Homo sapiens: one gene and its partners. The protein of the gene in region 3 purifies or fractionates together with the protein of the main gene of each other region. This does not show direct contact. Each region holds a gene or a part of one and is shown on either strand. Other genes may lie near its edges. The genes, in order: KCTD15, ZNF318 and PRPF39.

Region 1 (10,369 bases), on a different chromosome or scaffold from region 3:
CTAGAGACAACGCTGCTGCTCTCTGGTCAGTCCTCAAATCAGGAAGCTTTGGGATTTGGGACTTGGGATGTTAAGGTCCTACTCAGTAGCCACACCAGGTCCCAAGTGTGGGGAGTGGTGGTTCCCGAGGACCAATGCTGGAGTACCTGATTGTGGCTGCTTCCGTGAATTACAAACCAAGGGCTAGAGCTGTAATTTATAAAATATCCTTTATTTATTCTAAGGAACAGTCAAGCAGTAGCTTTAAAAAAAAAAAAAAAAAAGACACATTTTTTGAAAGATATTCTTAGTGTTGTGACCTGGCATTGGGCCCCTGTGAGCGGGACGGTGGCTGAGACCGCCTGCTGTGGCTTTGCGAGTTCTCTGCACTCACTGGCAGGGGTTTGGTGGGAAACGGGGAAGCTTTGGCATGGTTCTGTCCAGTTGCTTATAATCAAGAATAATGAGTTTTGAGGTTTACAAAGAGCAGAAGTAACATTTATACGGCTGGCATTTGACAAAAGATTGCTGATAATATACTCATTCCAGGAAGTGTAAAAATGCTTTAAAGGAATGATAATTTGTACTTACTGTTTATGGGGACTAGATATATTAGAATTATAGCATCATTATGGGGACATAGTGTTTCCCTATAAATTCAGAAATTCTCTGGTTGATGTAAAATCATACTTCCTGGTTTTACTTAATTAGTAAAGAAATAAATAAATTAGAGTAACATTTAGTCAGGTAGAGTTACTCCTTTTTCCCCTTCTTTATTAATAAATTTTATTTTTAGCACAATCATTTACCCAAAAAGAGAGTTTGAGAATGTTCGAGAATCTCTACCACTCGGTAACCATGCTGGCTGTTATATCAGAAAAATCCATAAACATACACAGCAGCGAGCTGTTTTCACAAGACTTCCTGCTAATAAACACAACACTTTCTCCTCCACTCAGATGGGAGCCTCAGATGCCAAAACGCAGATGTGCCAACTAACTATAGGCTCGTTGCTAAGCAGAGAAACCTATCAAGTTTGTCCAGCAAATTCGATTGTACAGTGGGATGGCGTCTGCTCTGCGGCCTTGGACAGGGAGCCACTGGTCTGTGCTGCTGTCCCCTGAGGCAGGTCGAAGCTGGTGGCCCTTAGAGGGCAGGTAAAATGGTTCTCATGGGTTAGAACATAAGGGCTTTGAGAAAAAATGCAAAAGGTCTCATTGAAATTGGAGGCCTATGTGAATCTGTTTACATGGAGGCATACTGAGATCTCGTTCTGTGCTTAGGTGAACTGCAGGTCTCACGCTGGCTGCATGACTTGGTGCCCCCTGGCTGGCTGAGCCACTGCCTGCCACCTTCTCATACCATTACGTGGGGGTCTAAAGAGGACATCATCCCCAACCAAAGAATAGTGAGAGAGAAAATCCCAAACATTTGAGACAGGGTTCAAAAGCACCCAGACGCCTTCTGTCTCTTTCCCAGTTCCCATCTGGCTAGGGACTGTGAATCAGAATTCAGAATCTGTGCTGCCCTGAGGGGACAGGCACCCAAATGCAATAAATAACACCAAGCTCAGGACCCAGCCACTGACCTTCCTCCACCACTGCTGCGGGTTATTCCTCGATGGGAACTGAAGGATCCAAGGGAGGAATCCGTTCCGCCCCCAAACCTCCCTGCACAACATCGAATGCGGGAGTCTGGCTGCTGCTTCTGCACAGGACAGAGCCTCCAGTCTTTTGCTTGAGAGCATCATTTATGGCATGGACTGGGAACGCAATGTGTTCACACAAATGCACGACAATTGTACATCAGCATCTTTACAATATTAAAGGAGCCATATACAAGTCTACAGCCATTGTACACAGGATGGTGATGGCTGGGGAGCCCCGCCCACCAGTCCTCTGCAGTTTCTCCACCGGAGAACACTTGGGGAGCTGTCACAAGGCCAGGGGGGGTCCATCTTTGGGCCTGTCGTGGGGGAGGCAGCAGGTCTGCAAGGACTCCTCAGGGCCAGTCCTCACTGGAATCAGGGGTCAAGAGCGCCAGGTCTGCCTGTGTCTGGGTCTCATCGGCAGGCTAGTGTAACAACGTGAATTAAAACTGTGCATATTCGCATGAGAAAACTGGAGCTGGGGATGGCTCCCTGAGCTGGGGACCTAGAAGACGCTGCTGACAGATGGGCCCCTTCATGGTGGGGCCCATTCCTGAGGTAACGTGCAGCCCTGAGGCTGGTCCGAACGGGAGGAGACTTCTCCAGCAGCCCAGGTGCCAGTCCACACAGACAGGACTGGAAGCCCCTGGGCAGCAGGTCAGGTGACCCGGGGAGTGCAGCCTGAGCCCCCAACGGCAGCAAACGTGAAGGTCTCAGGTGGTTACAGAATCACTCAGCCCTCAGGCCCCCACCACTCTCCTCCCAGCAGCCCTGCAGCACACATCCCTGCATCTGTCCCGAGAGCCCCAGCCCTGCAGGCATCTGGGCCTGAATGCCAGGCAGCTGGTCCACCCTGCAGCCATGCTGCACGTCTGACTGAGAACTGAGCACCAGATAAAGAAGCATTGGTCCTTGTCAGCCTCTCTGACTTTTGCAGTTAGGGCTGCATCCATTTTAAATACTGTAGAAAATAAGCCATCTCTCGGACGCTAGGAGACCCGCCAGAGTCTGCCCCGCGTGGAGAGGGATAAACAGCTCCTCTGAAGTAGCTGCAGACGGCTCTTCCAACCCCGCCCCAACAGGCCCCGGGGCCTCAGAGGATGCTGCGCCAGGCTGCGAAGCTGAGGGGCTGGGAGAGCTGGCAGCAGAGATCCCACCGCTGTATCTTTGGGTCGCATCAACAGTCCTTCTGCAGGCATGCCTCCAGCATCCCACGTTCTGTTGCCATGACACCTGGGACCCTGGTGCTCGCTGGGCCAGCTTTGGACCCTCCAGCCTCACCCTCGGTCTCATGCCCACGGCCAAGTATACACAGGCAGAACTCCCCAGCACTGTTTCCAGGTCCCTGGGGGGGCCCAGGTGGGCACTGAAGCAGGGCCTAGTCCAGGGGTTCCTGCTTGATTCGAACAGCAGTGGGGGTGGGCTGCGGCCGCCGCTCCTCCCGGCAAAGCACATACTCGCTGAACTGGGAGGAGTCCACACCGCCCCCACAGGACGCAGCCACGCTGAAACCCCTCTGGAACAGCCGCTCCAGGACCTGCCCAGGAAGAAACAGAGGTCATCAAGGCCAAGCTGCAAGAGGACACCTGGCTTGGCCTGGCAGGGAGGTGGGTGCCTGCTGGGGCAGCCAGCAAGGGCACCTTCTCCTGTGACGATCTCAGTCTTGCTCACTGACAAAGGTCCCTACAGAACCACGTGCTGGGTTCCACCACCAGAGGGACAGAAGTGGCCAGGCCCAGTGACCCCTCAGGTTAGCAAACCTAGTTGGACGACCCCACCCAGGCCACCATCCTGCTGCCCTCAGGGCCTTGATTCCGGGAGGCAAAAAGAGGCTTTGGGTCCCTTCTTTATTCTGTAGGGTGTAACCTATGCCCTCTCTCCAGACACATGGCCCCAAGTGTCCTCCCTGAGTCCTGCCCCAATAATGGAGAGTTCCCTGTCCTTCAGCCTCTAGGCATCCACCAGCTTCCCTGAGCTGTGCATTCCAGGTGGTTTGAAGCCTGGGGGTGCATCAGCTCGTGGGAGCTCTGGAGGGAGAGAAAAAGGAGAAGTCCTCTCAATATTTGAGTCTCTGCAGGCGTCCACAACTATGTGGGTTTGTGCCTCTGTGAGGGTGAGGTCTGATGACTGCGTGTAACACCCGTCTCCTGCAACTAGCAAGTTCTGACCGACAGGCTGTGGAATGCGTGCACAGGGGGCCCTCTTCCCTGCAAAGCCCATTCCACCCTAACCCGGAAATGTGCCAAGCTCTTGGGTCTGCGAAGAGCTGTTGGAAAATAGGCCCTCACTCCATCTGAGCTGTCCAATTCTTGGACCCATCCAGGAAGAGCCGGTCCAGGGATTCTCTTGGCAGCTGGTGGGTGCCTGCGACTCCCAGGTCAGCAGGGAGAGGGAAGGGGCTCCAGACCACCTTTCCACTCAGCCTCTGTCCTGCCTCGCCTGTTGCCTGGGTTTAGTTCGAATCCAAAGTCAGACTCTGGGTGTCAAATGAAGCACGCTTTGTTGAAAATACTCTGGGCCATTTTTATAGAACATCCTTTTGGAAAAAAAAAAAAAAAGTACAGATCGATTTTTTTAAGTCCATCCCCCAGGCGCCATCATTTAATTATGAGAGGGACATAAATTATGCATCGACACATTGTTGCCTTTTTTGTAGGATGGCACGGGGGGCTTCACCGTTTCAGGGATCGCGCCTCCCTCCAGCTCACTCTGCCCCTGGAGGGCTCCGCGGACGCCGGGGGTGCGGCGGGGAGGGGGCAGCGTGCAGCCCTCACCTGTACCGAGTTGAGCCGGCAGTAGCCATTGAGCGGGAAGCGGATGACGTGCGTGGGGTCCTGGTTCCAGCCGGCGTTGACGGAGTTGCACATGACGTCTCCGGTCTCGGGGAAGACCTCCTCGATGAGGGCCTTCTCGCCGCTGAGTGCGATCCGCTCGCCCAAGTCGGGCGTGACGCGCACCACCAGGCAGTCACAGGCCCGGCTGCGGCGCCGCTGCTCCTGCTCCTGCTGCCAGCGCTCCAGCTCGCGCACCATGGGCTGGAGCTGATAGTAGCGCGCCTCCTCGTACAGCAGACTGAAGTCCTGGGGACAGGCGCACAGGGTGTTGATGTGGGTGTCGGAGTAGGGGTGGTGGGGGAAGGGGGAGAGGGGAGGCGGCCTGCCGGTTCCAACCAATTCTGCAGGAACTGCGACTCGCAGGGTATTGTGTGGACTGGGCCGGTTGCACCCATTGTACAGATGGGGCAACTGAGTGGTTTGCAAGTATAAAGAACCTAGCCTTGTCCCAAGGGCAGCCGCTGATGTGCACCTGTGCCAGCCCCCCTGAGCCCTTCCATCTGGCCCCAGGCACTGGGCAGTGAAGCCTCCCCATGGAAAGACCTGGAAGCTCCACTAAAGGACGAGGCTGTGCCTATGCCTGGGGACCTGCTGCTGCCTTAGAATCCCACCGAGAGAAGAGATCATGCTGGGCACAGGGCAGCCGGGCCTAGGAGCTCACAGCCTACCCGGAAGCAAAAAAAGTTCTTCTCCAGCCAAGCCTGCCTGGGTCAGATTTTCAGCTTCATCATCAACCTGCCCTGAGACCTCTAAACCTCTATACCTCACTAACTGAGCCTCTTGGTTTTTTTTTCGTTTTTTTTTGTTTTTTTTTTTTGTTTTTGTTTTTTGAGACAGACTCTCTCTGTCACCCAGGCTGGAGTGCAGTGGCTCGATTTTGGCTCACAGCAAACTCCACAATTCTCGTGCCTCAGCCTCCCGAGTAGCTGGGACTACAGGTGCCTGCCACCACACCCGGCTAACTTTTATGTTTTTAGTAGAGATGGGGTTTTCCCATGTTGGCCAGGCTGGTCTTGAACTCCTGCCCTCATGTGATCCACCTGCCTCGGCCTCCCAAGGCGTGAGCCACTGCGCCCGGCCTCAGTTCCCTTATGTATAAAATGGACATAAACAACCAGCTCAGAGAATGAAAGTGAGGATCAAAGGATGCAAGATGTGCCAAGTGCCTGGTCCAGCCCCTGCCCAAACAGGCAGAGTGTGATAAAGTGTCCAGGGAGGGGAAGCCCGCCCCCTGCCACGCAGCCCCCTTCTGGGCTAAGCAGCCTCGCACAGACTGTCCCTCAGGCGCTGATACTGGCCCCATGCCCTGGGCCACATATGCACACTATACACGCTCACACACACCCACCCCACTGGGAATGGCCAAGGTCCCATAGGTCCCCATGACTCATGCCTGAGGAAGAGGCAAGGAAGCCCAGCCCCCTGACCTACAGGCCCTAAGTCCCTTCCACCTGCTGGCCGCCTGGAGGGAGGCCTAGATTCTAACCCTGACCTCTGGGCCTGTCATGGGTCAGTGGCCCATCCTGCCTCTCCTGCCCCATGCAAGGGCTCCTCAGGGCTCTATCCTGGGCCTCTGCTCTCTCCACTCTCACTTGCTCCTGAGATTTTTATTTTATTTTCTTTAGACAGGGTCTCATTCTGTAGCCCAGACTGGAGTGCAGTGATGTGATCATAGCTCACTGCAGCCTTGAACTCCCAGGCTCAAGGGATCCTCCTGACTCAGCCTCCCGAGCAGCTGAGACTACAGGCATGAGCCATCATGCCAGGATAATAATAATAATAACAATAATAATTATTTGTAGACACAAGGTCCAGGCTGGTCTGGAATTCCTGGGATCAAATGATCCTCCTGCTTGGCCTCCCAAAGCACTGGGATTACAGGTGTGAGCCACCTCTCCTGGCCATTCTCCTGAGATTTTAAATGACAACTGCATGACAGACAACCCCATCTTTTGTCATGGCCCAGGATTTCTCCATCTGATGCCCCACCAGCTCTCCCATGCAGGGGCAGAAACCCCACTCCCACAGCCTGGTCCACCCCGGGCCTCAACTTACCAACTCAGAATTCAAGCCACAAGTCCCGGGGCACCTGCAAGAGGCCCTTTACACTACCACAGCCACGTGCTTTTGCAGCTTGCTTGCTTGTTTATTTATTTACTTATGAAAAGTAAATAAATTACTCTTAAAAAACTTTAAAAGTAAAGTTTATTTATTTACTTATGAAACCTTGCTCTGTTGCCCAGGCTGGAGTGCAGTGGTGTGACCTCAGCTCACTGCAACATCCACCTCCTGGGTTCAAGCAATTCTCCTGTCTCAGTCTCCCGAGTAGCTGGGACTACAGGTGCACACCACCACGCCCGGCTCATTTTTGTATTTTTAAGAGAGATGGGGTTTCACCATATTGGTCAGGCTGGTCTCGAACTCCTGACCTCAGGTGATCCACCTAAATCGGCCTCCCAAAGCGCTAGAATTACAGGTGTGAGCCACCGCACCCGGCCTTTTTTAATTAAAAAACAAATTTGTATAGACAGCATCTTGCTATGTTGTCCAGGCTGGTCTTGAACTCCAGGCCTCAAAGGATCCTCCCCATTCGGCCTCCCAAAGTGCTGGGATGACCAAGTGAGCCACTGTGCCTGTACTAAACAGAAGTCTGATGTGCCACCTTGCTCCATCTTCTCTATCTCCATCCTGGTCCATCCAAAGCCTCCACCCAGCCTCCCTTGGCCTGGGGAAGGGGCCTCATCCATAATTGCCTCACTGCACCCACCCCCACCCCTCTCTGCCTTCTTCCCCACCCAACAGCCAGAGAGATCTTCCCAATTTGCAGATCTGACTGCCCTTCCCCTGCACACACCCCTTCCACTGCATTCAGAGTTAAATGCCAGGCACTGGGCCACCCACCAAGGTCCTGACATCAAACAGCAGCCTCCTTTCCTGACCTTCCCCTCCCAGTCCATAAAGCTCCAGGCTTGACACCTTCTTTCCAGTTCTGGAATGCATCAAGCCATCTGCCACCCCCATCCCCTGCACCAAGGCCCTCACACCTGTTTGGCCCCGTTCTGCCTTCACCACCCAGATGAACATCATTTCTTTCAAACCCGCCCAGCCCAGGTCACATGGACTTCAAGTTCAGTATCTGTCTGCCCGCTAGACTGTTAAGTGTTGTGGGGCAGGTCCTAGTGTGTGTGTTTCACTGTTTTCAGCCTGAATTCAGAGGCTGGCACTCAGTAACTGAGCTGGATGAAAGACAAGGCCCCAGGGCTACTGGTCCTCTGGATAGAGGAAGGAATGAAGGAAGGAAGGACAGACATTTGCTAGTATTAATACATGCCAGTGTACCCCAGGCCTGAGTTTCCTTCCTCCCAGAGTCCCTGACATGTGGGAGGGGCTCAGCACTGAGGCATGACCCAGGGAACCAGGTCACCTGCCCTGACGGGCTCACCCGGAGACCTGGGGGTTAACCTTTTGTTTAAAGGGTATCTGTTTGGTCATCAGGGCTTTTCTCCCTGCAAATTGCCCAACACAGAACAGATTTTTTTTTTTTTTTGAGACAGAGTCTTGCTCCGTCATCCAGGCTGGAGTGCAGTGACGTGATCTCGGCTCACTGCAACCTCCGCCTCCACCTCCTGGGTTCAAGAGATTCTCCTGCCTCAGCTTCCCAAGTGGCTGGTATTACAGGCACCTGTCACCATGCCCGGCTAATTTTTGCATTTTTCTTTTTATACTTTATTTTTTGAAGTCTAATTACAGCCGTCCTTTTCTTTCTCTTTTTTGAGACGGAGTCTTGCTCTGTCGCCCAGGCTAGAGTGCAGTGGCGCAATCTCGGCCCACTGTAACCTCTGCCTCCTGGGTTCAAGTGGTTCTCCTGTCTCAGCCTCCCGAGTAGCTGGGATTACAGGCCTGCCACCACGCCTGGCTAATTTTTCTATTTTTAGCAGAGACGGTGTTTCACCATCTTGGCCAGGCTGGTCTCAAACTCCTGACCTGGTGATCCACCCGCCTCGGCCTCCCAAAGTGCTGGGATTACAGGCGTGAGCCACCGCTCCAGGCCTAATTTTTGCATTTTCAGTAGAGATGGGGTTTCATCAAGTTGGCCAAGTTGGTCTTGAACTCCTGACCTCAAGTGATCCACCCACCTTGGCCTCCCAAAGTGCTGGGATTACAGGCATGAACCACTGCACCCAGCCGATGGAACAGATTTATGAACCTCTAACTACTATAACGCTGGCACGCGCCCATCCTTAAACACGACAAATGTTCAGCTGGGATACGTTCTGCAGCTTGATTGTTGTTATATACCCTGATAAATAAGCTAAAAATGTGAGAAAACAAAATTAGTTTAGAAAAACTGATTTAGCCCTCGGCTTCATCGTTTAACTTTTTATGGTTACCATGACAACCAGGGGTCCACTTATTAAGTCACAGCGTCCCCTGTGTAATGCCATCACACAGGCAGTGCAGGGGGGCCACCAGCCATGGACTTACCTTAAAGTCATCCGGAAGCAGCAGCTTGGACGTCCGCAGGAAGCTCAGGACGTAGCGGAAAATCTCCCCATCCCGGTCAATGAAATAATGTTGCTTCAAACTGTCCAGGACGATGGGTTCAGTGCCATTGAAGAGGCGGCTTATCCTGGGAGAGACAGGCGAGGTGGGATGTCTGAAGGGATGGGGACAAGTCTGCCTGTCTTCCCACACCCCGCCCCCACTCCTGAGGGCCCACACGGCTGGAGGGGCGAGGGACCTGACATGGGTGACTCTGGAACTGTTCCAGGCCTGACAACATCTGCACACACCTGGGGCAGCCAGGCTACAGTTAACAGGACACACCACACATCCTGCCTACACCCGCAAGTCACAGCCAGAGAGGGACACACCCAGCTGTACACACCAGCCTGCCAACACACGTTATGTTACAGGCCTGGAAAGGTATAGCAAGACACAGGCACCTTACCCCCTACACACAAACCAGCTGGTCACAGGCCTGGTGCACACACCCTTGCCAGATAGACCCACCCAGAAAATGCACATGAACCATCCAACACCCCGGCCAACAGCCACACACCCAGTAAACGAGCCAGGACATACATCCTCCCCACCCAACCCATGTAAACGAGTGTGAGACACACAGGCCTGTGCAACAGGCACAGGGTCACATGGTCCCTTCCTTCCCAACACACACATATCATGCAGATCCAGACACATCCAGGAAAGGACACACACCTGTCAACACCAGGCACCCAGAGACATGACGGCACAAATCCCCTACTGCCGCTCACTCAGGGAGCCCACAGGGAGAAACAGAGGCAGACAGGAGGGATGGCAAGTGTGCCACAGCACACACATGCAACAGGGCCCTTGCACACATGCCACAACACAGGCATACACACACGCACACAGAAACCATGCACACACATGCACCACAGTGCATACATATGTGCACACATGCCAGAGCGTATGCACACCACACCTAGTGGTGGCGGATGGGGACTGGAGAGAAGGCAGGTGCCGGTACCCTGTCCTCTGAAGGGCAATGGTTCTAACAAATGCAAGACCAGGAGAAGGGTCTTGGGGAGCCCCTGATGCCTGTCCCTGTCCACTCCGGGGAGAAGGAGCCAGGCCTCAGAGCCAGGGCTGATACCACCTCCCCAGTGCCCAGGGTGGCCAGCTCTGGTTTGGCAACTGCCCTGGCAGACCCCAGGTCGAGCTAGGGATAACTAGGAACCCTAAAGAGGGGTGGGAGTAGCCAAGGGCTTGGTTTGGGAACAGGAGGGAAGTTGGCATCATTTCCCCAAGGGCAGCACCACCACATCCTTCAGCAGGCAGGGCCACACTCCTGCCCAGCTGGACCCTGCCAAGGTGGCAGCTTCTCTGCACAGCTGGGAGAACAGTAGCTCCAACTTGGGACCTA
Region 2 (10,369 bases), on a different chromosome or scaffold from region 3:
GACATTGCAGAGCTACGGCAAGAGGCAGAAGAGGCAGAAAAGAAGCAATCTGAACTGGACAAAGTGGCTCAGATCTTGGGAATTAACATCTTCGATAAATCCCAGAAGTCTTTAAGTGACAGTAGAGAGCCTACAGAGAAGCCTGGGAAAGCAGAAAAATCTAAGAGCCCAGAAAAAGTGTCATCGTTCTCAAACTCCTCCTCCAACAAGGTAACAACTCAATTTTTCCATTTCTATCATCTTTTTTTTCCCTTAGACTCCTATGGTTTTCTAACCATTTTCTTAACTTAGGTTTTCAAACTGTTCTTACTCTTGTTAATTATTTTCTTACAGTATAGATCAGAGTGTGGTACTCCTCTTCAGAATTTCAGCATAGTTCCTTGTTGCCCACAAAGAATCCTAAATCCTCAGTATTCAGAACCTTCTATGTTCTTGTTCCAGCATTTACTCCCTAACCCACTCCTATCTGGCTTCTGATCTTCTCAGAACTTGTATATACCCTTTTGGGGGGTTCATATTTAGCAACTATGTTCATGTCTAGGTCACTACTGTGTTGCTAAAGTCAGTAAATACATTTTACTTCTCAAATGAGCAGCATTTGAGGCCAAGAATCACTTTCTCCTACAAATACTCTTTTCCCTTGGCTTCTGTCACACTTCTTTTCCTCGTAGTACATTGGATGCTCCTGCTTAGTATCCTTTGCTGTCTCTCTTGCATAATCTTTAAATTTTTGAGTTTCTCGGGGCTCAGTCCTTGCCAGAATTTGCTCTTTCTTCCTAGGCCATTTCATCCAGTCCTATGCTAAAATGCCATGTGACAATTGCCAGTTTTATGTTCTAGTCAAATGAGTCTTCTGAGTGTCTAACAACGTAACTCACCATTTCCACTTCATTATCTCATAGGCACTTGAAATTGAGCATGTCCTAAACTAAATTAATGGTTGTGCTCAACCTCCTTCCAACTTTTTCTTTCTCCATTGTTATGCATTCTCAATGAATGGCATACTGTCCGACAGTTTTCATGCCAACAACTTAAAAGTCACTCTCAGTGCTCTGCTTTCCCTAACTGCTCCATATGCAATCAATTACAAATTCTGTCAGGTCCCTCTCCAAAGTAAATCTCGATTCCATGCACCTTATCATCTCCATTGACATTCAAGTCCAAGCCACATCAGTTTTTGCTTATGTTGCTGTGTTAATTAACTCTTTTTGCACATATAGCCAGTGATCATGATACTTAATCCCTTGCCTACCTCCTCAACCTCATTTCATGCCTCTTTCCTTCTTGCTGACTGTAGTTTCATTACTAACCTTTTCATTCCTCAAATGTATCATCTCCTCTCGTGACCTCACATTTTCTGTTCCCTTTCTTTACCATGCAAATCGAACTCTTTCCTTATCTACTCTTCTAACTCCAATTCATCCTTTAGATTGGATCTTAAATTACTTCCCTGACATCCTTCTCTGATTCCCTAGACTGTTAAATTTGCCTGATATACACTCCCATAATATCTTGTAATTTTCCTTCTTAACATTTATGACAGATCTGATTTTATAATTAAATGTGTTCCCCTAATTTGATTTTAAGGTTCAAAAGTTACAGGGACTTTATATGTGTCATTGTTCAATATGATTCCCAATATATAGCCCAGGGCCCAGCACATAGTAATGAATACTGCTGAAGAAACATTATATTACATCTTACGCTGCGTCACCTCAAAATGCAATTTTCCGGATGTGCAATATCTGGTATTACACCTCTCTGGTTTTGCATAAATAATCCTATTAGCCTGGAATAATCTTTCTCCCAACCCCACTCACCCATTAAAGCCCAATTTGGATACCACCTCTTCCATGAAGAATTTCCAGAATTCCACCCAGATCTAGTCAGCCTTCTTTAGCACTCTGTAATTTGTTTCTTTGTAAAATTTATTTCGTTGTCTTATTTAAAGACTCTTCTTACGTCTGTCTCCACTAAATGAGAGCTGCTTTTTTTTTTTTTTTTTTTTTGGTTAAAGATGGGGTCTTGCTATATTGCCCAGGCTGGTCTTTTGAGACAGAGTTCTTGCTCTGTCACCCAGACTGGAGTGCAGTGGCGCAATCTCGGCTCATTGCAACCTCCGCCTCCCAGGTTCAAGCAATTCTTCTGCCTCAGCCTGCCGAGTAGCTGAGATTACAGGCACGTGCCACCACGCCCGGCTAATTTTTATATTTTTAGTAGAGACATGGTTTCACCATATTGGCCAGGCTGGTCTCAAACTCCTGACCTCGTGATCCGGCCTCCCAAAGGGCTAGGATTACAGGCGTGAACCACCCTGCCCAGCATTTTTTTTTTTTTTTTTTTTTTTTTTTTGAAACAGAGTCTTATTCTGTGGCGTGTGGCGTGATCTTCGCTCACTGCAACCTCTGTCTTCTGGGCAATTCTCCTACCTCAGCCTCCTGAGTAGCTGGAGTTACAGGCGTGTGCCACCACACCCAGCTAATTTTTGTATTTTTAGTAGAGACGGTTTCACCATGTTGGCCAGGCTGGTCTCGAACTCCTGACCTCAGGTAATCCACCTGCCCCCGCCTCCCAAAGTGCTGGGATTACAGGCATGAGCCACTGCGCCCGTCCCCAGGCTGGTGTTGAACTCCTAGGCTCAAGTGATGATCCTCCCGCCTCAGCCTCCCAAAGTGCTAGTATTACAGATGTGAGCCACCCCACCTGGCCCGAGAGGATAAAAGAGGAATCTTTTTTATCTTTGTGTTTCCCATTGCATACAATATGTCTAGCACATAGTACATCCTCAGTTAATATTGAGAGGTAGGAAAGAGAATATATTCTGTGTTATCACCCAAGCTCTATTTTTTTCCATGTCTTCCTAGGAGAGTTTTCTTTCTCAACCAGGTAGGCCTAGTCTTTTATACCTGGGTCTTCAGTCTAGGTAGGGCCTTTGATGGGAGAAGAATTTAAAAGCTCTGGTCCTTTGTAATTGACTTATACATTGGATTTCTATTCATGTACGAACCCAATGATAATCTGTCATCTTGATTTGGGTGCGTCTTCATGGTCTCTGAAACTAACGGATATGTTACAATTCAGTTTTCATCTCAGCAGTAAGGAATATTATGTCCACAGCCTTTCTTTCCTACCTGTCCTTGGTATTTCTTCTTTCTTTACCTCTCTTTAAAATGTATAGTTGGTTTGAGATTTTCTTTCCCTTTCTGTTCATTTCAGAAAAGCACATACAAACTTGTAATTTCATCTACCTAGAGACAACTGTTATTATTACTTTTTTTTTTTTTTTTTGAGACAGGGTCTCACTCTGTCACCTAAGTTGAGTGCAGTGACACAGTCATGGCTCACTGCAGCCTCCAACTCTCAGGTCCAAGCATTCCTCCCACTTCAGGCTCCCCAGTAGCTGGGACTACAGGTGCTCACCACCACCACACTTGGCTAATTTTTGTATTTTTGTAGAGTTGAGGTTTCGCCATGTTTCCAAGGCTGGTCCCGAACTCCTAAGCTCAAGTAATCTGCCCACCTCAGCCTCCCAAAGTGCTGGCATTACAGGCATGAGCCACTGGGCCCAGCCGAGACCACTGTTATTAATACCTTGGTGTATAATATTATTAATACCTTGGTGTATGTTATTCCAAATACATACACCAAGGTATTATTATATATTCCAAATACATTAATTTATTATTAATACCTTGGTGTATGTTATTCCAAATACATACACCAAAGTATTAATTCTGTCCATCAATTCACTTAACAAATATGTATTGGTCACCAATAAAGTGTCAGGAACTGGTCTAGATATGGGAAGTATCACACTGAACAGTATAGACAAGGTTCATATTCTCATTAAATAGCAGAAGATGATAAATAAATAAGTCCATGTTAGGTAATGAGAAGTGCCTAAAAAAAGAAAACAGGATAAGGAGTATAGAGTGGTTAGAGAAAGTATTTTGGATAAAGTGATATTCAACGCTGTATGCCGATTTACATATCTTTGTTGATTATTCAAGTGTATTTTATTAGTTTTCTCAGTATATCATGAACATCTTTCCATGTCAGTAAATACACTTCTATAATACCATTTTTAACAACCTTATTTTTTGTTGTTTTGGTTGCATGGTTAAGCAAAATTTATTTAACCAATCAAATCACCTGTTGTTTGACATGATAATTTCCATAGGATAAATGTCAAGGAGTGAATTGCTGGGTTAAAGGGTATACAGTATTTTGAGGTATGTAATGTATTCCTAGATTATCTTCTAGAAGATGGTGCCAGTTAATACTCCCACCAGGAGTGTATGAACTCTCCCATCCCCTGCCTGTCTGGTGTGATTTCTTTAGTGATTCTTGAATAGGACTCAGGTAGGGAAAGAGTATCTTTGAAGCCCCAATTGTTTCCCTTTCTGTATCCTACCTTTTTCCCTGCGTGAGCCAATATTCCAGGTACCCAGCTCTTCATCTTGTGTACTATAGAACCCCATTCATAGTGAGCCTCTGAGTTGCAAAAATTATCTTTTTTTCCTGTGCCTTACTCCTGAACATTAACCAAAATTCTCATTTCCTGAGTGCCTTGTTCCAGCTTGGTAATAAATTAATTCATATTAAAGTATTTGCTGTTGATAACTTTAATATTAAGAAGTTGATATATTTTTAAAAAGGATACATGTTAACGGTGTTAAAATTTTTTTTTTTTTTTTTTTTTTTTTGAGACAGGGTCTCACTTGTTGCTGAGGCTGGAGTGCAGTGGCACAATCTTATCTTACTGCAACCTCCGCCTCCTGGGTTCAAGTGATTCTCGTGCCTCAACCTCCCGAGTAGCTGGGAATACAGGTGCACACCACCATGCCCGGGTAATTTTTGTATTTTTAGTAGAGATGGGGTTTCACCATGTTGGCCAGGCCTGTCTCGAACTCCTGGCCTCAAGTGATCTGCCCACCTCGACCTCCCAAAGTGATGGGATTACAGGTGTGAGCCACTGCACCTGGCCTCTAAAGTTGTTAAATTCTAAAAGTGATATTTTAGGCAGTTAGGAATGTTTTTCCTAGATTCCTTTAAATCATTCTACATAGATGACTTTATCTATGTGTAGTTGTATAGTCTACTTTATCTATGTACACCAACCCTTCTCTCCAGTTTTTCATACCAGGATGCATGTGATGAGTTCACTATCACCTATTTTCTGCATTTGCTTTGCTTAGCCTGTCAATTACCTTTTCCATATTGGTTTTTCTTCCCTCCCTAGCTGTCATGATTTTCAAATTTAACTGTTTAGTTGCATAGGTAACATATTCAACATTTACTAAAGGGTATACAGTGAAGAGACTCCTACCCATCCTTGTTCTCCACTTCCCTTCCCCAGAGGCAGCCAATGTTTCCACAACCTTGGCTGTTCTTCTAGAGATATTTTAGGATATGTAAGTAAATATATTGCCATTATGATTTACTTTTTATGCTGTGATAGCACTATGAAGTCAAATAGTTCTATGTCTTAGAGACATGTTTCTGTTAGGGTTCCCCCCAACTTGTGCAGCTTTAAACATTGGAAATATGGTCATATGGCCCTATTTCTATTATTATGGCCACTTACTATTTCTAACAGAAGACAAGTCTAGATTGCCTTGAATTCCTTGTAAGTACAGATTTTTCCCCTCTAGGAATCAAAAGTAAACAATGAGAAGTTTCGTACTAAGAGCCCCAAGCCTGCCGAAAGCCCCCAGTCAGCCACTAAGCAGTTGGATCAGCCCACTGCTGCTTATGAGTATTATGATGCTGGCAATCACTGGTGCAAAGACTGCAACACCATCTGTGGGACCATGTTTGATTTCTTCACTCATATGCACAATAAGAAGCACACACAGGTTGGTATCCTACTCTCTGTTATTTTCACTCCCACCCTCACTCTCTTCAAACTTCTATACCCCTATCTGCATTGCAAAGCTGGAAAAGGAAACATTCTCATATGGGCAGGAGCCCCAGTCTGAAGAGCCAAGAGACACCAACAAAGGAGACACCATCCCCAGGGCTCAGTCCAGGGGACTTGGCTGTAACTAAACACCATGACAAGTGTAAGTGAGGTTTCTGCCTCTTTTGATTCCTTGAGTACCTGATTTTTTTGTTTCATTTTACCTTTTTCTGGTACTTGCTCTAACATGTGTTTACCTTTTCCACAGGTGATTTCCATTAAAACAGTTGGCAGAGGGGGTGGGGGTGGGTAGCTGGGGGCTTCTGGTCCCCTGGTCTTATTATGGGGGAAAAAAAAGAGAAAAGTGGGTCATTGAGCTTTTAGTGCTGTTGTGTGAGCACCTCTGCCTCTTACAAATAGACACTGGATCCCTACAACAGACCTTGGGCTTCAAAGACCCAGAGTGAGGCCAAGCAAGATGCCATAAAGCGCACTGACAAGATAACTGTTCCTGCAAAAGGTATGTTTCCTTTTTGCCACCTTTGTGGTTTCCTTACATTCAGTTGAGGAAGAGGTGTCCCTGAACTAACATTGTAGGAAGCAGCATAGCATGAGACAGCCATTCCTTTTAACAAAGCCGTAGGAATGCCTTCTGTGTACAAAACAGTGTACTAGGTCCTGAAGCTATAAAGAGATCTATAAGACCATGATCTCTACCCATATGGCCAAAAATCTATTCACAGATGTTAAACATAGACATGTCACTTAAAACAGAATTGTCTTTGTCATTGGCTTATGGGCCCAAAATCTTACTTGTTTGGAATCCAGGTTAAAAAGGACAGGAGATGCAGTAATTTAACTGCCTTTTCAACTAAGAACTATACAATATTTTGAGTCATTGTTATTAAGGGGTAAGTGGAGAAGCAGAAACTTCCTTTGTCTTTAAACTTCTCAATTTCTTTTTTTTTTTTTTTTTTCCTCTGAGATGGGGTCTCTCTCTGTTGCCCAGGCTGGAGTGCAGTGGTGCTATCTCTGCTCACTGCAAGCCCCGCCTCCCGGGTTCACCCCATTCTCCTGCCTCAGCCTCCCAAGTAGCTGGGACTACAGGCGCCTGCCACCATGCCTTGTATTTTTTGTATTTTTAGTAGAGACGGGGTTTCACTGTGTTAGCCAGGATGGTCTCGATCTCCTGACCTCGTGATCTGCCCACCTCTGCCTCCCAAAGTGCTGGGATTACAGGCATGAGCCACTGTGCTCAGCCCATAAACTTTTCAATTTCTTACCTTCACAAGTAGCTAGTGCTGCTACTATACCCTTGAGATTTACAGAAGATAGTTTCCTCAGTAATTAATACCAACATGAGAGATCATCATAAAATGGTAATGGGCTATTTGGGAGTATAGTTTTTATATTTCCTGAGATGCTTGGTGCTAGTTAGGGTTTGAGGAGACTCAGCAACAGGAATTAATCTGGCACAGGAAACTCCTAAATTAACCAGTATAATGTTCCCAAGAGGTAGAAGAAATAGAGGACTGTAGTTCAAGCCTTAGGTTGGAAAGACTGTGCCATTGGGATTCATCTAAATACTGCTTCTGACTTCAAAGTGGGTAAGGCCCTCTATACTGTAACCATTTTACTGCAAAGGGGTGGTGGGATTTCCATTGGTTGCTGTCATTCTGGGTGGAATCGACTTATTTCCTTGACTTTTTTCTACTTCTTCCAGGCTCTGAGTTTCTGGTTCCCATCAGTGGATTTTATTGCCAGCTCTGTGAGGAATTTTTGGGGGATCCAATTTCTGGGGAGCAACATGTGAAGGGTCACCAACACAATGAGAAATACAAGGTTGGTCTTTGTAGTAGGCTGTGGAGTTTCCAACTTTTCTGAAGTAATTATTTTGACTTTGTCAAATGGCGTCCGAGCCAGAAAAAGCCATTGACACTTCAAATTCCATATAACCTCTAAGTTCTCCTCAATCCTAGTGGGAGATGCTCAGCAGATAGCATCCCGTATGTCCTTGAGGAAGATAATTCTGGGGATTTCTACTAAATGAATTCTAACAGTAGCGGGGCCAAGATTTTTTTCTCTTGTATTTTCACCAGTTTTTGAGTCTTTATCTTTTTTCTTCCCAGAAATATGTGGATGAAAACCCATTATATGAGGAGCGGCGGAATCTGGACCGCCAAGCTGGCTTGGCTGTGGTCCTAGAGACAGAACGGCGACGGCAGAGTGAGCTAAAGCGCAAACTTAGTGAGAAACCAAAGGAGGAGAAGAAAGAAAAAAAGGCAAAGGCTGTGAAAGAAGTAAAGGAGGATGACAAGGTCTCTGAGAAATTAGAAGACCAACTCTCTGAGGGTAGGAACTCCCCTGAAAAAGCTGAAAATAAAAGGAACACTGGCATCAAACTCCAGTTAAAAGAAGAGGTAAAGAAGGAATCACCAACATCATCTTCTTTTGGGAAATTCAGCTGGAAGAAGCCAGAAAAAGAAGAGGAGAAAAGTTCATTGGTGACCCCAAGTATCTCTAAAGAAGAGATTCTAGAAAGTAGTAAGGACAAAGAGGATGGCAAAACTGAAGCTGGGAAGGCAAAGCCTATCAAAATCAAGCTCTCTGGGAAAACTGTTGTTGCACATACCAGCCCTTGGATGCCTGTTGTGACAACTTCCACACAGACTAAGATCCGACCCAACCTGCCTATTCCATCCACAGTACTCCGCAAGTCATGTTCAGCCACAATGAGCAAGCCAGCTCCTCTTAACACCTTTCTGTCTATTAAGTCCTCTGGAACCACTGCTAAACCTCTGCCAGTGGTTAAAGAGTCTTCAGCTGATCTCCTCTTACCTCCAGACATCATCTCCAAAGCATTTGGAGGGGAAGAGGTGATTCTAAAAGGGTCTCCAGAGGAAAAAGTGGTGTTGGCTGAAAAGAGTGAGCCATCTCATTTACCTGAACAAATACTACCACCTCCTCCACCACCCCCACCTCCACCACCTCCACCACCCCCCGTTATACCTCATCCAGCTGCCCCGTCTGCTGCTCAAGCAAATGCTATCTTGGCTCCAGTAAAATCAAACCCAGTTGTATCTCAGACTCTCAGCCCTGGCTTCGTGGGTCCTAACATTTTGAACCCAGTGTTGCCTGTAGCCATCATGGCCTCAGCACAGCCAGCTGCCATTCCTTCTGATGAGACAGCTCCTGGGGTGAGTGAGAGTGACCGAGACCAGACCCTGTTCTCTGTGTTAGTACGTCCTCCACCACCCCTCTCAAGTGTGTTCAGTGAACAAGCCAAAAAATTAGAGAAGCGAAATTCATGCTTAGCCACAGCCAATGCTAAGGACCTGTATGACATATTCTATAGTAGTGGTGGAAAGGGGGCCCCTGAGACTAAGGGGGCCCCTGAGACTAAGCTAAGTGGTGGTCCATTGGCCAATGGGGAAAATAGCAACCTCTCTAGAACCAAAAGTTCAGACACCTCTTCTACTTCTCCTTTGAACAGCAGTGCATCCCAAGAGGAGTTGCATCAAGATGAGGGTTTGGTCGCTGCTCCTATAGTTAGCAACTCTGAAAAGCCCATTGCAAAAACTCTGGTGGCCCTAGGGAAATGGTCAGTTGTAGAACATGTAGGCCCAAAAAGCACAGGCAGCACCTATGGCTTCCTACAGCCTCTGACAAGGTTGTGCCAAAGCAGGCCTTATGAAACAATTACCCCAAAGACAGACACTTTGGCCATATGGACCTCTAGTTCCTTCCAGAGTGACACTAGTAGGGATATATCTCCAGAGAAGAGTGAGCTTGACCTGGGAGAGCCAGGACCACCTGGTGTAGAACCACCTCCTCAACTGTTAGATATACAGTGCAAAGAATCTCAGAAGTTGGTAGAAATCCACCTCAGAGAATCTGTTAACCAGGATAAGGAAAGCCAAGAGCTCCGTAAATCTGAGGATTGTAGAGAAAGTGAGATAGAGACAAACACTGAACTAAAAGAAAGGGTAAAGGAGCTGTCTGAGGGGATAGTTGATGAGGGAGTAAGTACCAGCATTGGACCCCACAGCATAGATGATTCTAATTTGAACCATGGAAACAGATACATGTGGGAGGGAGAAGTAAAACAGCCCAACTTGCTAATGATTGACAAAGAGGCTGAACAGTCCAATAAATTGATGACAGGAAGTGAAACTCCAAGTAAAGTAGTGATCAAATTGAGTCCACAGGCTTGCTCTTTCACAAAGGCAAAATTAGACTCATTTTTATCAGAAGCTAGGTCTTTACTCAACCCACAAGATACACCTGTGAAAATTTCTGCCCCAGAGTTGCTGCTTCATTCCCCAGCCAGATCAGCTATGTGTTTAACAGGTAGTCCACAAGAGCAAGGAGTTTCAGTTGTTAGTGAGGAGGGGCTAGAGAATTCAGCTCCAGAATCAGCTTCTAGAACTTCTAGGTACAGAAGTCTCAAACTCAAGAGAGAAAGAT
Region 3 (10,369 bases):
TATTCTAAGATTCCATTCATATGAAAGGCCATTATAGGGAAATCTACAGAAACAAAAAGCAGTTGGTGGTATCTTAGCACTGGGGGTAGAGGGTCGCAGCTGAGGAGGTAGGGGTAGTGACAACTAAAAGTTAAGGTGTTATTTTTTGAGGTGGTGATTATGTTTTAAAATTGACTGTGGTGATGGTTGTACATATCTGTGAATATACTAAGAACTATTGAACTGTATACTTTAAATGGGTGAATTATATGGCATGTGAATTATATCTCAGTAAAGCAGTCAAAAAAAACCAAAGAATTAAAACTGTGGGAAATTACCTCATTTTACTATATATCTAAAATGGGTGAATTGTAATGTATGTAAAGTATAACCCCAAGAAGTTGACTTTTAAAAATTGAACAATTAGAATAAAATTGTTCAGATTAAGCAGATATCTTGCAATTCAAGTAAATCTGGATTCAAACATTCTAAAACTCATCAGGGAAAATGGAAAAACTGATAATGATTACAATAAATGAGACAAACATCTGAAGTTATGGCTTAAATATGCAAAAATAAAGTTACAACAGAGATAGTACTATCAAAATTGAAAGAAAAATAAATTATTCCTACTTTGTATTTTAAAGACTATTACAAAACAAAAACACTTACACCTTCTTCAAATGTCCACCTTTTACTAACTTCATGCTCATTATAATTAAACATTTCTTGATGAATCTCAATGATTCTATGTCTCATGTTTTCTATTTCTGTAATTAGCTTGGGAAGAAAAAGGGAAAAAAATAAATCTCACAAACTGTATACTGAAAATTTTCAATATCACTGCTTATATTTAAGTATTATTCACAGATATTTTAGTCTTAGAATAGTGGTAGATTTTTAACTGTTGGCAATTATGTGCAAAATCCAATTAACAACACTAAAACTTATCACACAACTTCCTAATTAACCACTTTCATATTTTTTCTTTTTTTCTTAAATTGGGCTAGTAGATACACAACCTAGGCAAAATATTCCTTCTAAGCTAAGTTTTTTTTGGGGTGTCTTGTAGTAAAATAGATTCTCTACCTTAAATCTATACATACAAGCTACTGAATCCCCACTTGCCTTAATCAGAAATTAACTTCAAACAAGCTACAAGTCACTGGGTAAATGGCCAGTTATATAAGTGATCACTGTGCCACTCATGGAGTCAAGGGATAACAGGTCCAGTTTCTTCTGCACTAAAGACCTTTTTTTCCCCCCGAGATGGAGTCTTGCTCTTTGGCCCAGGCTGGAGTGCAGTGGTGCCATCTTAGCTCACTGCAACCTCCGCCTTCCAGGTTCAAGCAATCTTCCCACCTCAGCCTCCCAAGTAGATGGGACTACAGTCATGTGCCACCACACCTGGCTAATTTTTGTATGTTTAGTATAGACAGGGTTTCACCATGTTGCCTACATGGGTCTCAAACTCCGGACCTCAGGTGACCCGCCTACCTTGGCCTCCCAAAGTGCTGCGATTACAGGCATAAGCCACCATACCTGGCCACTGACGAACTTTAGAATAAGACTGGTTACCTTTGCAGGATCGGTTATGTCTTCAATTCCCGATGGTAGATCATCACCAGGAGGACCATCATCACCACTATGACCATTTACAGAAGCTAATTCCCTTCGCAACTGAATAAACTGTTCACCAGTTAAAAGATCTCTAGGCAAATTATTCTGTACATGTTCTTTAAATCTAAAGGAAGACAATAAAAATATATGTATTTGAATCATAATTTTAGATCTCATATTGAGATTCCTACTATATACTACTCTTTCAAAGGATTTGATTTAAAAAAGAAACCAAAATATCATACCTTTTCTCCTTCTTTTCTATAGTAAAATCCTACCATATATGATAAAACACTACCATATGATAAAACAGTCTATAGACATCTTCAATTTCTTCCTACCTTTACAGTGGAATGGAGAAGGCATGGACGGGCATAAATTCAAACCTCAGTTCTGTCTGTTACTGGTTATCTGACTAGGGAAGGTTTTCTTTTCTCTAAATCTTAGTTTCCTCAATTGTAAAATAAGATGATAATACCTATTCGTGTGTCATAGAATCTATTTTACTACAAAGACATAAAAGTTACAGTAAAATTAAATACTGTAATCCATATTTAAATTCTAAATGATCACTTGTAAATAACCAACAAATATAGCATTTCCTTCCCACCTCCCAAATACTCCTCATCCACATGTGAGTACGCAAAAATCCAATGAAACTGCCCAATTAAGATTATCAATTACCTCATATATAAAATTAAATGGACACTTGTTTTGTAGTATGGTCCTCCAAGCCTCTGACTGCTGCTCTATGTCTTATTCCCCTTCTTACCTGCCCTAAATGCTACTATACCCAAGTATTCCACTCTCCATTTGGTTCTCATCTATTTTTATTAATACATACTTCTGGCCAATCTCATTCATACAGCTTGAAATAAGTATACCATGATGACTCTCAAAACTACAACACAAGTCCAAACCTTTCTCCTAATCACATTAGCATATACAACTGCCAATACTCTGCACAAAGAAATGTGGATTAGTTTTAAGCTAATCTATAAAAAGATTTTTGAAAAAAATATCATTTCACTATTTTATAAAAACATGCAATAATTTGTATACATACAAATTGTAATCAAAAATACCAGGTTGAGGAGCTAAAATATCTACACTATCACAATTTGAATATACCTTTGGAACCTCAAATATGAAATATTTTAAAATAAGTATGGCATCTTCATCTGAAAATGAATACCCTCAGTATTTCTTTCTTTATTTTCTTGTGTGAGATGGAGTCCTGCTCTGTTGCCCAGGCTAGAGTGCAATCGTTCTATCTTGGCTCACTGCAAGCTCCACCTCCCGGGTTCAAGCAATTCTCCTGCCTCAGCCTCCCAAGTAGCTGGGATTACAGGTGCGCACCACCACGCCCAGCTAATTTTTCTAATTTTAGTAGAGACGGGGTTTCACCTTGTTGGCAGCCTGGTCTCGAACTCCTGACCTCAGGTGATCCACCCGCCTCAGCCTCCCAAAGTGCTGGGATTACAGGTGTGAGCCACCGTGCCCCGCCACCCTCAGCATTTCTAATATTGATTAATGGTACTGTCAACCACTACATCTCTCAATCTCTTCCACCTAGCTTTTCATTTACATTAGATACCAGGTCCTACTGACTGTACCTTTTAAATACATGTTCATCACCTCGGGACTTTTAAGCTGGATAAACATAAAATGACCTTGCAGCCTCTAGTCTCACAACTCCCATTCCCACCTCTATACTACTATCAGAAATGTTACTAAAAAGTAAGCAAACAGGTCAGGCGCCTGCTGACGCCTGTAATCCCAGCACTTTGGGAGGCTGAGGTGGGCGGATCACCTGAGGTCAGGAGTTTGAGACCAGCCTGGCAAACACGCTGAAACCCATCTGTACCAAAAATACAAAAATTAGCTCCGTGTCGGGGCGGGCACCTGTAATCCCAGCTACTCGGGAGGCTGAGGCAGGAGAATCACTTGAACCTGGGAGGTGGAGGCTGCAGTGAGCCAAGACTGCACCACTGCAATCCAGCCTGGGCAACAGAGCGAGATTTCACCTCAAAAAAAAAAAAAAAAAAAGTATATAAATAACATTGGAATCTAATTTAAATTTTGCAAAGTCAATGGATACAGAGGCTAACGGCCCATTTCAGCACCAGGTGGAAAAAAATTAACAAAGATTGCCTTATGTTAAAAAATTAAAAATAAGGAAGTAACTCTCAAATATGTAGTATGAAAAAACAGATTTAATTACAGATGAATATTAAAACTCAGAATGGTCAACAAATGAATTAAAAACTTAAGGTAAAATTTCAAAATAACTACATACAGTACATAAATCTAAAATGACTTATTGCTACATCATGTAACAACTTCTTTAAAACAGTGACAAAATGTGCATAATATTAAGCAGTATTTTTTCAGCAGTTTTTTGTATTATAAAGCTAACATTTATTCAGTAAAGACTGGCTGACTGCCTAATATATATTGAGCTCTATTCCTAAATATTAGAGATACAAAGAATTAAGCCTCAGAAACTGACAGGCATGTTGAGGATATAAGAGACATAAATTCAAAGCAGTGTTACTGGTGCTAATATAAATGTAAATAAATGTAGGTAAAGTCATGGCACAAATAACAGACTAGGTATCTCAGTATAGGAGAACCAGAGAAAATTTCACAGAGAAGACACAAAACTGTGTGGTCTCAGGGAATATAAGTCCACTAGACAAGTGGAAAGAGGAAAAGGTATTACAGTCATAAAGATATAAAACAACACTGCCCTTTGGGAAGTTATCAGACTTAGGTGTGTCTAGAGCTCAGGAACCACCAGGGATTGGACCTGGATGTTAGACCAGATCACAAAGTCCTCATGCTAAAGAAGGATTTAAATTAGACATTATCTCAGAGATAATGTGCAGGGTACATCCAATGGTACAAGCCTAATGCACAAGCACAATAAAAATATTTCCATTATTACTGTATACCACTTAGAATATCTTTTTTAACACACGCCTCCTCCTCTATCCTTCTGACCAACTCACAGGCAACGCTATTTACACATGGCTTCTTTGGGCCTTCATTCCTACAACTTAAATAGCCTATCAACAGGTACACAGCAAATGCTAAATAAATGACTTTAAGAAAGAGGCATGTGTTATGGAAAAAAAAAACAAAACATTCAGTGGTTCTCAAAGCAGTTAGTCATGTGAATTAACTTATATAAACTATAAGAACTGCATAAAGATTACTTGTGAGTTCACTATAACTGATAAGGAAAGTGGTTCTAAATGCATTAAGTGAAAAATATCAGATTATAGATCAGTATGTGTAATATAATCCCACTAATATCTATTGTAAGTATATATGCATTTTTAAAAGCCTAGGGTAACTGACAACTTAAAGAAAAATAAATAAATAAAAGCCTAGTGGGATATTTATTTAGAAATAAAAAAGATTTGTAGGAGAACATATCAAAAACTTCAGGGCCATACTGTCTAAGTTCCAAGTAGCTTCCAATCACTTACAAACTCTGTGGCCTTAGATAAATATGCTAATCTCCCTGTGTCTCCCCTTTCATAAAATGGGAACAATAGTACTTGCCTCACTGGGTTACTGGGAGGATTAAGTGAGTTACAAAGCACTCAGCACAGTGTCTGGGATATAGAAAATGCTATGTGTGTTTCCTACAAATATTTTTTTTCCATCATCAGTAAAGTTCTTGTAGTCATAGATTTTTCCTATACTTTAAATCACAGAAGAACTAGTCTATGAAAAGACACCCTCTTTGGCCCATCAGGTAATTTAAGTACTTTTGTACTTATGTGTTTGGTAACTATTTACCAAGCATTTCCATATGCCAATTCTTACTTGTGTTAACATCTTTCAGCAAGTGTCTTCCTAGGTCGTTATACCTTAGAAACCTGCCTGCTTCCTCTATTTCATCAAGAGCAGAGAGAATATTCCTATCTATATGCTTCCTATTTCTAACCTGAGTCTGTATAACTTCTACCTTTAGCACATTGATCCTTAGTACTTTACAAATGCTTCATAAAAGTCTTCTACTTTTGGTACTAAAAAAAAAATTTAGAAAATCACTCACTTAAAAAGTACCTAAGTTTATACAATACTACTCATAAAAATTATAACAAAAAATAGAAAATACTAAGTTTATACAATACTACTCATAAAAATTATAACAAAAAATAGAAAACATGCCAATTTAAAAGCAAAGACACAGTCCTCATACTCGTTCAGAAAGACTTTCTGGATCCTTATTTATGGGATACTCTGAATAAAGCAGAAAACAGAACACAAAAATAATGACACAGAATTAGTTGTTTTAACAGTAATCATTAAAATAAAAGGATACCAATTGTAACAGAAAAATCATTTTAGAAAATTAAAATGGAATGATACCTGAGTGTTTGAAAATAGATACTACTTACTATATAAAATGCATCCTTCACTGTTTTGGATATAAGGTGTTATAGCAATCACAATAATGTATATTTAGCAAATCATTAAGTTTCAAAAAAAATAAGCATCTATCATGTGCCAGGCACTGTGTCAATTTAATGCCATAAATAAATAACTCAACTTAGGTACTATTTTCTCATTCCTTCATTACTCTGAACTACCTTAGACAAGACAGAATTCCTGTTTCTCTTTATCCATTAAAATGAATAAGGAGAAACTTCTATCTAAAAACAGTAAAATTTCTAAACATTTCATAAGGCATATGAAAAAATGTCAAAAGCAAGCATGTAGGTTGTGATTAGCAACAAAATTTATTCCTCTTTCCACATAATAAAAGCTTACATAACATTCCAAGATAATTATAATACTTAATATTACCAACTATCTGAGTAATCAAAGATGTTTCAATGATCAGAATTTCCCACCTACCTCTGAAAATGATGACTATACAGCTGTGTTGGAATACCAAGAATACGATCATATATAGCTGTAACTTCTCTCAGGTTTCCCTGCTCATTTTCCCAGTTTATATACATTTCCCACAGTCTGTCAGAACGGAAATCTGTTCCTGCAGCTAGAACAGCATGCTCAAAAGTTCTGAAAAATTAAATTACTCTTAAGTTATCTTTCCAAGATAAAATCACTTTTAAAATATTATTTCTAAATTTAGAAGATAATGCTAACTTCAAAAATTATATTCAACTGCTTCCTATGCAAGTAGGGATTAAAGGGTAGACAGAATAACAGAAAGCATACAACAGCTGCTTAAAAAGAGTGAGAAAACAAAGAGAATAGATAAATGTACTTTTTATGTAACTTTATCAAATAGAAAATTAAATACAAAATGTACACATTGCAAATAGGTAAGAGTAGACATGTAAGTATTTGTTAAATCTGAAATGTCTATTGTATAGATTGATTTATGACAGAAGACAAAATTAAAACAAGTAGGAAGTTAAAGAGAGGCAAATTTTATCTCAATTTAAGAATATTTTCATGAGGCATGGTGAAATGGTTACAGGCGTGATTACAGGCTCATGCCTGTAATCGCAGCACTTAGGGAGGCTGAGGCGGGAGGATCACCTTAGGTCAGGAGTTCAAGATCAACATGGCCAACATGGTGAAACCCCATCTCTACAAAAATACAAAAAATTAGCCAGGCATGGTGGCACATGCCTGTAGTCCCAGCTACTTGGGAGGCTGAGGCAGGAGAATTGCTTGAACCCGGCAGGCGGAGGTTGCAATGAGCCAAGATTGCACCACTGCACTCCAGACTGGGCGACAGAGCGCGACTCTGTCTCAAAAAAAAAAAAAAAGTATACATATACTTTAAACCTCTCAAAAGCCCCTCTCAATTCTAAAATTCTATCATTAAAGTTTTATCACAGGCTGGGCACGATGGCTCACACCTGTAATTCCAGCACATGAGGCCAGGAGTTTGAGACCAGCCTTGCCAACACGGCGAAACCCCATCTCTACTAAAAATACAAAAATTAGCCAGGCGTTGTGGTGCACATCTGTAATCCGAGCTACTCGGGAGTCTGAGGCATGAGAATCACTTGAACCTGGGAGGCGAAAGTGGCAGTGAGCTGAAATTGCACCACTCAACACTGCACTCCAGCCTGGATGACAGAGCAAGACTCTGTCTCCAAAGAAAAAAAAAAAGTTTGTTACAAAGTATTTTAAAATACCTAGTCATGTCAAGAGATTTCTGTAAGCAATTTTAATCACTGGATTTAATACTCCAATGGGATAAAGCTTTTAGATACATACTTTCAAGATAAGTATCTTAGAATCAAGAGAGATTTTTAAAAAGTATAAAACTACACTCCCCTAAGTTAAACCACAATTTTAACACAATTTCAATAAAGCGCTAAAAAATGTTTAGTGGAACAAGAAAAAATCAAATTCTACTATTCATCTAGAATACAAAAATGCAAAATGACTTTGTAAAAGGATAATGCAGCAGGCATTTTCCTGAAAGATAATATAAGAAACTAGGAAGCTATAGTAATTACACGTTTGGCACTGGCCAGGTAACAGAAAAATGGATGAACAGTACAGAGCCAAGAAAACAAAAAAGAGATCAATGTGTGTGAGTATTTGGTGTATGATATAGGAGATACTTTAATTCAACAGTGGGAGTATATAAAAGGCTAATGTCTATCTCACGACAGATAGAAATTAAATTCAGATAAATGAATAAGCAAAAAACTATAGAAAAGTTAGAACAAAATACAGGATTTATATATTTTTGGTAAAATAGGCACAAAACTCAGGAACCAGTAAGAATTAAAACAGAAGCACATTAAGGAAAAATAAAACTCCATATGATAAAAGACACCATAAACAAAGTTAAAAACATACCAACATTGGAGGAAATATGTTTAATATAGAAATAAAAGATTGAAGAGCATGTGTGTCTGTGCATGCATGCATGTGCATATTTGGTGTAAGGTTTTCAAAAGAATAAAATAGATGTTACTGTCCCTACAGAACCCCAAATGATTCAGAAAATTAACCAGACACTGAAAAAAGTATGGAGAAAAGGGGAAGAAGACAAGAAGGTAATGAAATGAAGACAGAACGTTTAGAAGAAGGTATACTTAATGAATCGTGAGAAATCTTCAACTTTCCCGCCCAGCTATGGGGATTTCAGAAGCTAGGTGTCCATTCCCCAAGTAAATAAAATTATCCTTTTCTAAACAAACTGCTTGGCTCAGGAATAAGATATAAGGTTACTATCACTGGGAATCCACCAGCAAAAAGAGTGGCCACATGATTACACTACTGTGAAACACCATAGGCCAACTGACAATGCCCCATACAAAACACACAGTGCTTCCATATGCTTGTGTTTTGTTTTGTTTGTTTGTTTGTTTGTTTGTTTGTTTTTGAGACAGGGTCTCGCTCTGTCACCCAGGCTGGAGTGCAATGTCACGATCTCAGCTAACTGCAACTTCTGCCTTCCAGGTTCAAGCAATTCTCCTACCTCAGCCTCCTGAGAAGCTGGGATTACAGACTCCTGCCAGCATGCCCAGCTAATTTTTTTGTATTTTAAGTAGAGACAGGGTTTCACCATGTTGGCCAGACTGGTCTCGAACTCCTGACCTCAAGTGATCCACTGTGCCTGGCTCATATAGCTTGTTAATATCTAATCTGTAATAGGAACAAAAATCCAGAGATCACATATCTCAGAGATGAAAATGGGTAAACAGAAAAATTTGAGAGGAAACCGTCCTGGGAACAGAGGAAAATCTCAACTATCCTTAGTATCATCAAAGAAATAACAAAAAGATATGCAGCCATGAAACAAGAATTGGAGAGTATAAAAAAAGGAACACTCAGAGAACAAGAAAGATTCTTGGATATTAAGAATCTGGGCCGGGCGTGGTGGCTCACGCCTGTAATCCCAGCACTTTGGGAGGCCAAGACGGGCGGATCACGAGGTCAGGAGATGCAGATCATCCTGGCTAACACGGTGAAACCCTGTCTCTACTAAAAATACAAAAAATTAGTCAGGCGTGGTGGCAGGTGCCTGTAGTCCCAGCTACTCAGGAGGCTGGTGCAGAAGAATGGCGTGAACCCAGGAGGTGGAGCTTGCAGTGAGCCGAGATCGAGCCACTGCACTCCACCCTGGGGGAGAGAGGGAGACTCTGTCTCAAAAAAAAAAATAATAATAATCTGATGGAAGATGTTAAAAATCCAATACAAGGGTCAAGGAAATACCTCAAAAAGCCAGACAAAGTCTAAGATATGAAAAATAGGAAGAAGAAAAGAAAAACTCAGTAATTAAAAGAAGAGGTCCAACATCCAACTATTAAAAACAACAGAGAAAATCAAGGCAAGGAAACTGTCAAAATAAGAATATCCATAATAATAACATTTCTAAGAATAGAAGGACATTAGAATCTCAGAATGAAAAGACTCACCCAATCACCCAATAATCACAATAAGAAAAAGAAAATCCACATCAAAGCTCATTTTTATAAAACTTCATTTACATCAGACCCAAAGAGAACATCCTAACAGCTTCCACAGAGGAAAAACACATTATAGAAAGAGAATCTATTCTGCAAGAATGGTATTGGACTTCTCAAAAGCAATAGCAGAAGCTATAAAGGAATAAATAATGCCTTCAAAGCTCTATGGAGAAAATAATTTTCAACTCCAAATTCTACAGCTTACCAAACCTTAAAATTATTTTTTCATCCAAGCATCCTTTAACAAGAAGTTATAGGACACACTCTTCTAAAAGTTGGACATGAAATCAAGAAAAGAGTGAGATCTAATAATAAACTCACCCAGAAGTGAGGTAAAG

What was found.
Region 1: the proteins of PRPF39 (region 3) and KCTD15 purify together in Homo sapiens (affinity purification with mass spectrometry; 2 studies listed by BioGRID and IntAct, with this or other methods). This does not show direct contact.
Region 2: the proteins of PRPF39 (region 3) and ZNF318 purify together in Homo sapiens (affinity purification with mass spectrometry; 2 studies listed by BioGRID and IntAct, with this or other methods). This does not show direct contact.

The regions. Positions count from the first base shown.
Region 1 is NC_000019.10:33,805,585-33,815,953, reverse strand, and holds the end of KCTD15 (BTB/POZ domain-containing protein KCTD15), read right to left. Parts: intron 9,096-10,369; exon of another isoform or gene 9,092-9,095; coding exon 8,947-9,091; intron 4,708-8,946; coding exon 4,402-4,707; intron 4,164-4,401; coding exon of another isoform or gene 4,152-4,163; exon of another isoform or gene 3,165-4,151; coding exon 3,006-3,164; coding exon of another isoform or gene 2,582-3,005; 3' UTR 193-2,581; downstream 1-192. UniProt on the Homo sapiens protein: During embryonic development, it is involved in neural crest formation. Inhibits AP2 transcriptional activity by interaction with its activation domain.
Region 2 is NC_000006.12:43,338,165-43,348,533, reverse strand, and holds part of ZNF318 (zinc finger protein 318), read left to right. Parts: coding exon 1-210; intron 211-5,654; coding exon 5,655-5,858; intron 5,859-6,322; coding exon 6,323-6,422; intron 6,423-7,625; coding exon 7,626-7,744; intron 7,745-8,031; coding exon 8,032-10,369.
Region 3 is NC_000014.9:45,098,805-45,109,173, reverse strand, and holds part of PRPF39 (pre-mRNA-processing factor 39), read right to left. Parts: intron 6,646-10,369; coding exon 6,478-6,645; intron 1,724-6,477; coding exon 1,558-1,723; intron 760-1,557; coding exon 652-759; intron 1-651. UniProt on the Homo sapiens protein: Involved in pre-mRNA splicing.